2 separate regions of the Homo sapiens genome follow, and region 2 is linked to region 1. Evidence: fine-mapped QTL for protein levels in blood plasma. A gene starts in region 1. The other region holds a variant in brackets. All regions are shown on one strand. Distances are from middle to middle. Region 1 holds the start of TMEM25 (transmembrane protein 25). Region 2 overlaps PHLDB1 (pleckstrin homology like domain family B member 1).

The links. PIP is the posterior inclusion probability: the model's chance that the variant is causal. The UK Biobank Pharma Proteomics Project read protein levels with antibody pairs (Olink). The fine-mapping took linkage between variants from a reference panel, not from the people measured, so its PIPs are less certain.
Region 2: its variant is fine-mapped to the plasma level of the TMEM25 protein (UK Biobank, PIP above 0.99).

What each region holds. Positions count from the first base shown.
Region 1 is chr11:118,528,990-118,534,387 of GRCh38, forward strand. TMEM25 (transmembrane protein 25) reads left to right here and starts at 2,203. Exons shown (of 9, transcript NM_032780.4): 1 at 2,203-2,245; 2 at 2,786-2,882; 3 at 3,161-3,472; 4 at 3,928-4,218; 5 at 4,431-4,562; 6 at 4,868-4,898; 7 at 5,040-5,140; 8 at 5,277-5,366. The coding sequence starts at 2,813. TTC36 (tetratricopeptide repeat domain 36) reads left to right here. Exons shown (of 3, transcript NM_001080441.4): 3 at 1,665-2,004. The coding sequence ends at 1,927. It overlaps TTC36-AS1 (TTC36 and KMT2A antisense RNA 1), which reads right to left and starts at 1,786. Exons shown (of 3, transcript NR_120574.1): 1 at 1,515-1,786. RefSeq lists silencers at 665-959, 1,481-1,760, 1,881-2,320, 2,351-2,450.
Region 2 is chr11:118,628,564-118,631,443 of GRCh38, forward strand. It overlaps PHLDB1 (pleckstrin homology like domain family B member 1), which reads left to right. Exons shown (of 23, transcript NM_001144758.3): 6 at 1-87; 7 at 2,644-2,880. Among named protein-coding and RNA genes, the nearest start is that of MIR6716, 14 kb to the right of the region's middle. RefSeq lists enhancers at 2,264-2,772, 2,773-2,880. The variant A/G (reference allele first, on the strand shown) is at 1,683.

The DNA of each region.
Region 1 (5,398 bases):
GATTAAGGAACAGTTAATGAGAGCCTACTATGTGGCAGTAGGCTGGTGCTGAGGACACTGAGATAAAAGGTATATGGATCACCAACATTTATATAGCAGTCACTATGTACCAGGCATTAATCACTTTACATACAAACTAGTAAATCAATCCTCACAACAACCCTAAAAAGTATGTACTATTGTTATCCCCAGTTTATAGATGAAGAAACTGAAGCATGAAGAGGCTAAGTAACTTGCCCACTATCATACAGTCAGGCAGCAGCAGAGCTGGGATGTCAACCAGGTGGTAGGGCTCGAGTGTGTGCTCTTAATCCCCACATGATACTGCTCCTCGAAAAGCTCCCAGTCCAGGAGGCAGGGCAGACACATAATTCTGAGACCAGCAAAACAAGTTCGAGAGGGGTCAGCGTGGGACCTGTTCCTGAAGGGCGAGTTTTGAAGGATGAGTGGGAGTTAGTTGGTGGGTGGAGAAGGTACAGTCTGTAGAGGTCCAAAACTCCTGCTGCATTCAGGTTATTCTAATTAAGTGAAGACAATGGGACCATGCTGGGGACCAAAGATGAGGCTAATGTGAAGGTATAAACCACGGAAACCTAGTACTACTTGACTGTTAGGAGCAGTGGTGACACAGGTGCTCCCAGAACCAGCAATGCCAGGCTAGGGAGTTTTGAGTCCACTCCAGGAACAATGGGAACCTCCCAGGAGCCCCTTATCCAGGCTTATCTGCCCCAGATCACTGGAGACAGCCTGCAGACCAAAACCCCAGAGAGATGCAGTGGTGATTCCAACTGGAGATTCCTCCAGACCAGCTCCTCCGAGGGAAACCAAGGAGTACTGCATTCTGAGCGCTTCTCCGGAGGCTCAGGCTCTTTGGGGGACTAGAGAACATGAGTGAATTGAAGCAGAGCCCGAAAGAAGCCAGCCTGGTGGACTTTAAGAAGGTGGCTGGCTGCCTGAAGTTCTGAGTTCAGAGTTCTGAGGCCCAACCCAAGTATTTTATGAGAATAATAACAATAAAAATGGTGCAGGCCAGCTCTGGCTCCAGGACCAAGGAAATTAGATACATGGAGATAACCAAAGAATGATGAAAGGCAATCAGTCCAGGATACAGGGGAGAGAGAAGGTGTTCTAAAGAAAGCAATGGAAAAGAGAAAACGGCCCTCAAAAGGAAAACAATGAGAAACTGTCTTGATTGTACTTGTAAGAAATGATTGTGCGGTTAATATTATTTTTTGAACCCTGACATTCAGAGTCAGTCACCTGGCACATAGTGGATGCTTAATAACAGGTGTGGAATAAATTGGCTGCTACTTGCCCGGGCAGTGGGCCAGACTCATAAACATAGTGGCCATTCAGAATCCTGCAACGTTCATGTTTTCGTGTATTAGCGGTGGAAAATAATAGGAACAAGGCGAGACCTGGACTTCAGTCCCAGCTCTGCCACTAAGTGGCTTGGCTGTAGAGCTTAACTCTTCCACAGTCTTCATCTGTGTAATGGGAATAACGATCCGTACCTCTAGCAGGTGCGAGGCGGGTTGTAAATGGCCACGCCCGGGAGCCGCAAGAACCACGGTGATCCGCGCGGCCGCAGGTGGGCTGGGGCTCGGGCAAGGCCGCCCTGGCCTCCGCTGACCCCCGCCCCGCCCGTCTCGTCGGTCCCGCAGGCGCCCTGGAGGATCTGGAACGCGCGGTGGAGCTGAGCGGCGGCCGGGGCCGCGCCGCCCGCCAGAGCTTTGTGCAGCGCGGACTCCTGGCGCGGCTGCAGGGCCGAGACGACGACGCCCGCAGGGACTTCGAGAGGGCGGCACGGCTGGGCAGCCCCTTCGCGCGGCGCCAGCTGGTGCTGCTCAACCCCTACGCCGCGCTGTGCAACCGCATGCTGGCCGACATGATGGGGCAGCTGCGCCGCCCCCGTGACAGCCGCTGAGCGCCGCGGACCCGGGCGTCCGCGGGCGAGGGGACGGGACTGGGCCCTGAACCAATAAAGCCGTCGGGCCTCACCGACTCCGCCTGCTCCTGCGTCCTGCCCGCGCCCGGAGAGAAGGGCACTCGGGGGTACTCGGCGCGGGCTGGGGACCAGCCGGGGGGTGGTGAGCCGCGGCCGCCCACCTGCCGGGTAAGGGCCCCTCGGGCCCGTGGTCGGGCATCGATTGGCCCCGCCTGGCGCAGCCCCCGCCCCTGCAGCGGACTGCGGTGCTCATCAGACCTGAGCAGTTGCTCCGGCGGCGCTCGGGGAGGGAGCCAGGTGAGCCGCCCCGGTGGCGGGGGGCGGGGGCGGGATGCTCGGCGACCCCACCCTCCGACCCTCTCCTCTTCCGCCGACATCCACCGGAGCCACCAACATCAGGAAAGGGGGCGTAGGGCGAGGGATGGGAGAGAGAACAGGGCAGGAGAGAGGATGGGAACAGGGCAGGAGAGAGAATAGGATTAGGAGAAAGGCGATCCCTTTGGGGGAGGGGCGCGTGGAGTATGTGTGTGAGTGTGCGTGTGTGCAAGGTGTGGTTGCACGGATGCTCGTTGCTTCTGCGTATCTGCGGGTGTGTGCCTCTTTGTATTGTAGCCTGGAGTCAGTGCTCGCTTCTGCGCCTGCAGGATGTCCATGTGTCTGCTGGGTGGGTCTGTGCCTTTGGGCTTTGCCGTTCGTGTCCGTGCCTTCGCCACTGGGGGCTGGTCTACATTTGCGTTTCCGTACATGGTTCTTTTTGTTTCTGGAGAGTAAATTCCTGGAGCAATTGCTAGGCCTGCCTGCTGTCACCTGGCTGACAGGCCCGCCCCCTTCTCTCAGCAGCCTAGGGCCTAGGCCCGGGCCACCATGGCGCTGCCTCCAGGCCCAGCCGCCCTCCGGCACACACTGCTGCTCCTGCCAGCCCTTCTGAGCTCAGGTACACCCCTGTTCAGTCGTTGACCAAGTCCTTCTGGGTTCCAAAGCCCCCTCTCTCCCCTGTCTGCACTTCTGTTTGGGTACCCACTCCAGGCCCCAAGCCCTGGAGTCCCTGTCCCCTTCACCCACCTACCCTAGGTCCAACCAGCCAGTCCCTGGTGAGAGGACTCAGGTGCCCTTTCCTTTGGCCTGCTGCTCTTCTCACTGGGCCAATTCCTGGTCACAGCACAGTACCAACCGTGCCTGAGCCCTTCCCAGAGGCCTCCTGCTGTGTTCCAGGTTGGGGGGAGTTGGAGCCACAAATAGATGGTCAGACCTGGGCTGAGCGGGCACTTCGGGAGAATGAACGCCACGCCTTCACCTGCCGGGTGGCAGGGGGGCCTGGCACCCCCAGATTGGCCTGGTATCTGGATGGACAGCTGCAGGAGGCCAGCACCTCAAGACTGCTGAGCGTGGGAGGGGAGGCCTTCTCTGGAGGCACCAGCACCTTCACTGTCACTGCCCATCGGGCCCAGCATGAGCTCAACTGCTCTCTGCAGGACCCCAGAAGTGGCCGATCAGCCAACGCCTCTGTCATCCTTAATGTGCAATGTGAGTGGCCCTGAGGTGGGCAGGGAGATAGGTTCTTTGCCCAGGGACCCCCAGCACCCACCAGGCAGGTGGTCCGCAGGACATTTAGCAGACACTTAAGCACTTTGCAAATATGAACTCATTTGATCCTCTGAGTAACCCCATGAGGTCATTACTATTGTCGTCACCATTTTACAAATAAGAAAACTGAGGCAGAAAGAGGTAAGCAATCTGCCCAGGGTGATGATCCCGCTGGTAAGAAGCAGAGCCAGGATTCACATCTGGGCATTTGGCTCTAGTATTTACACTCATAATCACTCCGAAATGCTGCCTCTCTGGCAGACCCAGCCATCCTGTTCCTCAGCATCCCCTCTGAGGAGAGGCCCAGGCCCCTGGCTCCCATCTGGGTTTGGGAAGAAAGGGCTAGAAGTATGAGGGGCTGTGGTGAGAGCATATTGGCCTCTGCTTTGTACCAGTCAAGCCAGAGATTGCCCAAGTCGGCGCCAAGTACCAGGAAGCTCAGGGCCCAGGCCTCCTGGTTGTCCTGTTTGCCCTGGTGCGTGCCAACCCGCCGGCCAATGTCACCTGGATCGACCAGGATGGGCCAGTGACTGTCAACACCTCTGACTTCCTGGTGCTGGATGCGCAGAACTACCCCTGGCTCACCAACCACACGGTGCAGCTGCAGCTCCGCAGCCTGGCACACAACCTCTCGGTGGTGGCCACCAATGACGTGGGTGTCACCAGTGCGTCGCTTCCAGCCCCAGGTGAGCATGGCCAGCAAGCGGCCCTGCAAAGCTTCAGGTGGGCTCAGGGGTCCCGTCCCCATACAGAAATGGGAATACTTGTTGCCCTGTGGTTGGGTCTTGTGGATGAACTGTCCCCAGCCACCCTGGGCAAGGAGGGCAGAGTAGTACCTATGGCATGTTGGGGCTGGGGCACTACCCACTTGGGACCTGACACAGAGGACATCCTCCAGGGCTTCTGGCTACCCGGGTGGAAGTGCCACTGCTGGGCATTGTTGTGGCTGCTGGGCTTGCACTGGGCACCCTCGTGGGGTTCAGCACCTTGGTGGCCTGCCTGGTCTGCAGAAAAGAGAAGAAAACCAAAGGTAGGCCAGGGACACTGGGGGCAGTGTGGATGAGGTCAGGCTGAGCAGCAGCCAAGACAGCAAGTGCAGCTGGGCAGAACCAGTCATCTCTGACGGTGGCAGAGCACTTCCAGGGGGTGGCCATGGGTACGGTGACATGCATCCCAGGTAGCAGGGTCAAGCACTGGGAACCCAGTCTCTGGCCCCAGGGCCAGGCCTGGGCATTTGAGAGACCCCTTGCCTGAGGGTCCTGGGTCTGAAAGGGTAGGACAGCCCAGCGTGGGAGGGCACACTGAGAATTAGGGACATGGTTTCTTTCTCCACAGGCCCCTCCCGGCACCCATCTCTGATATCAAGGTAACTCTTCCTTGGGCTGGGTGGACAAGCCTAACCGAAATGCAGGATGGGGACAGGAGGGAGCCTGGGGTTTCTGGTAGAGGCAGCCATGAGTGCCTGTGCCGGGACTCATATCCATCCCGAACTTTGTCCTCCCTGTAGTGACTCCAACAACCTAAAACTCAACAACGTGCGCCTGCCACGGGAGAACATGTCCCTCCCGTCCAACCTTCAGCTCAATGACCTCACTCCAGATTCCAGAGGTATATCTAGGGCCCTGCTCTTTGCCCCTGCTTAATCTCCAGAAGTGCTTCTGAGAAAAAGAACTTGGTGCTTGGGAGGGGCGAGGCCTCATCAGGCACACTCCTCGTCCTGAACACTGCCCTCTTTGTCAACCAGCAGTGAAACCAGCAGACCGGCAGATGGCTCAGAACAACAGCCGGCCAGAGCTTCTGGACCCGGAGCCCGGCGGCCTCCTCACCAGCCAAGGTACTGGGGAAGGGGCCTGCCACCCTCCTCCT
Region 2 (2,880 bases), 98 kb after region 1:
GAGATCAGTGACAATGAGGACGACCTCCTGGAGTACCACCGGCGACAGCGCCAAGAGCGGCTCCGGGAGCAGGAGATGGAGAGGCTGGTGAGCGGGTGCCAGGGAGGCTTGCCACTGTCCATGGCAGAGTCTCTGCCAGGGCTCGAGCAGGCCAGCTGGCAGAGCAGGAGAGGCCCTCAAACAGGGCTTCGGCTTCTCAAGGTTCCCCACCTCCAGGATACACTTTAGTGATCAATATCTTATGGTTCTGGTGCCGTGAAGAAGAAATTCCTTTGAAATCTCTAAGACTTTATTTTAAATTCTTGCTAATTTTGCATTTATTCAACATAGCATTTGTTTTAATGTTAAATTAAATTTCACATTGTTTACCTGAGCACAGTGAAGCTCTAGGAAAACATACCACAGGTATGGTAAGACCTCGAACCTCCCAGTTTGAGAAGCAGTTGGTGATCATGAGTAGGCTGAAGCTCAGAGAGGGGAATGGCTTTGTCCAAGGTCACACAGCAAGTTCTGGCAGAGCTAGAATTGGAACCCAGGTCCCCTGTCTGACTCTTTCTGAGACTTGTTCTTTAGAAAAGTACCTTGTCCTTCTTTTTTGCTTGTCTTTGGCCTCTACAAGTGGGTGGGAGCTGCTCATCCTGGCCCAGGCAGTATCATCTAGGAGTGCAGGTGGCAGGGTAGAGGGACAGAGCAGGATAGGCAACCCTGGCCTGACCGTTAGCCAGCCTGTGTAATTGTGACTGTGTGTGTCCATGTGCATGCACGTGGGTGCATGCAGGGGCTGGGTGTGGCTCTAGGCAGCTGTCCTGGAGATGGCATCTGAGCTGGGTGGGGGCCAGGATTCCCCAGATAGCTCAGGGAGCTTAAGGGGCTCTGGCTGGTGTGTACACAGTCGAGCCCATGTACAGAAGAATGGATTCTGCCCTCTGTCCCTTACGAGCAGAACAGGGTTCTTTGGAAGGTGGGCAGGAACCCTGGGATTGGTTTGAGGAAGAGAACCAGAACTGATGAGAACCAGAACTGAAGCATCTGGAGATGCTTTTGGAAGAGGTTGGGACAGTTTTGGATGAGGGTATAGGATTGTGTGTTTGTGTTGGATGGGGGTGAGATGAGGCGGATCCCATCTTTTCCTTTGCTGCATCTTCTCTTCACTGTTTTTGCATTGGTCTAGACGGGAATGCATGGCCATTCTAAGCTGGGGTCTCATCCTGGAGAGGGGGCAGTGAGCCTGGCACAGGCAGAGTGGCAGGCACAGCCTCCCCCAACTCCTCCATCAGTTTTCCCACCCCCATTCCCACACATAAGCACACATCTTACCACTAGTCCTGACCTGCCTCACCTGCCACTTTAAGTCTTGGAGGCTGCCCGCCCTGCCCCTCCCACCTCAACCAGGCTGCTTATCTGGGTCCTGGGGCAGGGGTGGAGGCACTGGCCCAGCCTCCCAGGTGCCGAGGCTCTGTTCCGGTTTTTTTTTTTTTTTTTTGCCATGGAACTGGGCAAGCAACAGGAGGGAAGCTGGGTAAGTGTATGAGAACACCTCTCCAGCCTTCTCTCCACTTCCTGCGGTTTGGGTTCATGGCCAAACTGTAAGTGATGAGAGACACTTGAGGAGGTCTAGGGACCCTAGAGAGCCATGGAAGCCTCACAAACCAGGCTTCAGGCCTATAGGTAGGCCTGCGGGA[A/G]AAGGCAACAAAGACCAGGAATGTGATTGTGTCATCCCTCCTTTACCTCCTAGGCCCCTGAGAGGTGACTGTATCTGGGTGGGTGTGTATGTGGAGAGGGGTGGATGAAGTGGTAGGGCCATGGGAGTACTCACTCATGGGCCTGGGCATTCAAGGACTGGCAGCAGCCCATCCTGCTGATAAACAGCCAAGGGCTGCCTGAGGGTAACTTGGAGCTGAGGTGGGGACAAAGAGGGCCGTGTCCTTGGTCTACCTCTTCTCCATGTATGTCTGTGGTTGGGTGTCTGGTCCCTGTGGGCTCATGGGTCTGTTTTCCAGCACTGTCTGTCTGCATACATGCCCACCTGTCTGTATGCTAGACTGTGTTTATCTGTGAGTGTGCATCAGTGTGCATTTGTGCATGTCAGGGCTGGTGTCTCTGTACTTGCCTATTAATGCAGGGCCAGGGCACATGTTGTATCCTTGTGTGCCTGTGCATCAGTGCTGGTGTGTCAGTATGTGTCCTTGTGTCTGTAGATCTGTGTGTACCTGCGTCAGGACGAGCAACTGAGTTTATCTGTGTCTCATTGTGGTCTGTAGTCTGCTTAACAGTGTGTTTCTGTATGTGTTTAGTGTGTTACTGTGGGTCCATTTGGTGTGTTCCTGTGTGTCCTGGGGTAGACTGAAAAAAGAAAGGAACAGGAAGATGGAAGGGGCTGTCCCAGAAGTGGGCAGGAAGAACCAGGCTGTTATGCCATGTGGGCATGTGGCACAACAGCCTCGTTCTTCCTGCCCACTTCTGGGGCACCTTGTTTCCCTCTGCCTCCCCTAGGTCTTGGGGTCAGGCCTCTCCTGACTTGACACTGATGTCCTAGCCCCCTGTAACCCTGCTCTCCCTCCTGACAGGATACTGAACCTGGCTCTATCCCCACCAGGGCTCAGCTTCCTCCCCTTCATGTCCTGCTCTGTCCATCCTCCCCAGGAACGCCAGCGCCTGGAGACCATCCTGAACCTGTGTGCCGAATACAGCCGGGCTGATGGGGGACCTGAGGCTGGGGAGCTTCCCAGCATTGGGGAGGCCACCGCAGCATTGGCACTGGCAGGCCGGAGGCCCTCACGAGGCCTTGCAGGGGCCTCTGGGCGGAGCAGCGAGGAGCCTGGCGTTGCCACCCAACGCCTATGGGAGAGTATGGAGCGCTCAGATGAGGAAAATCTCAAG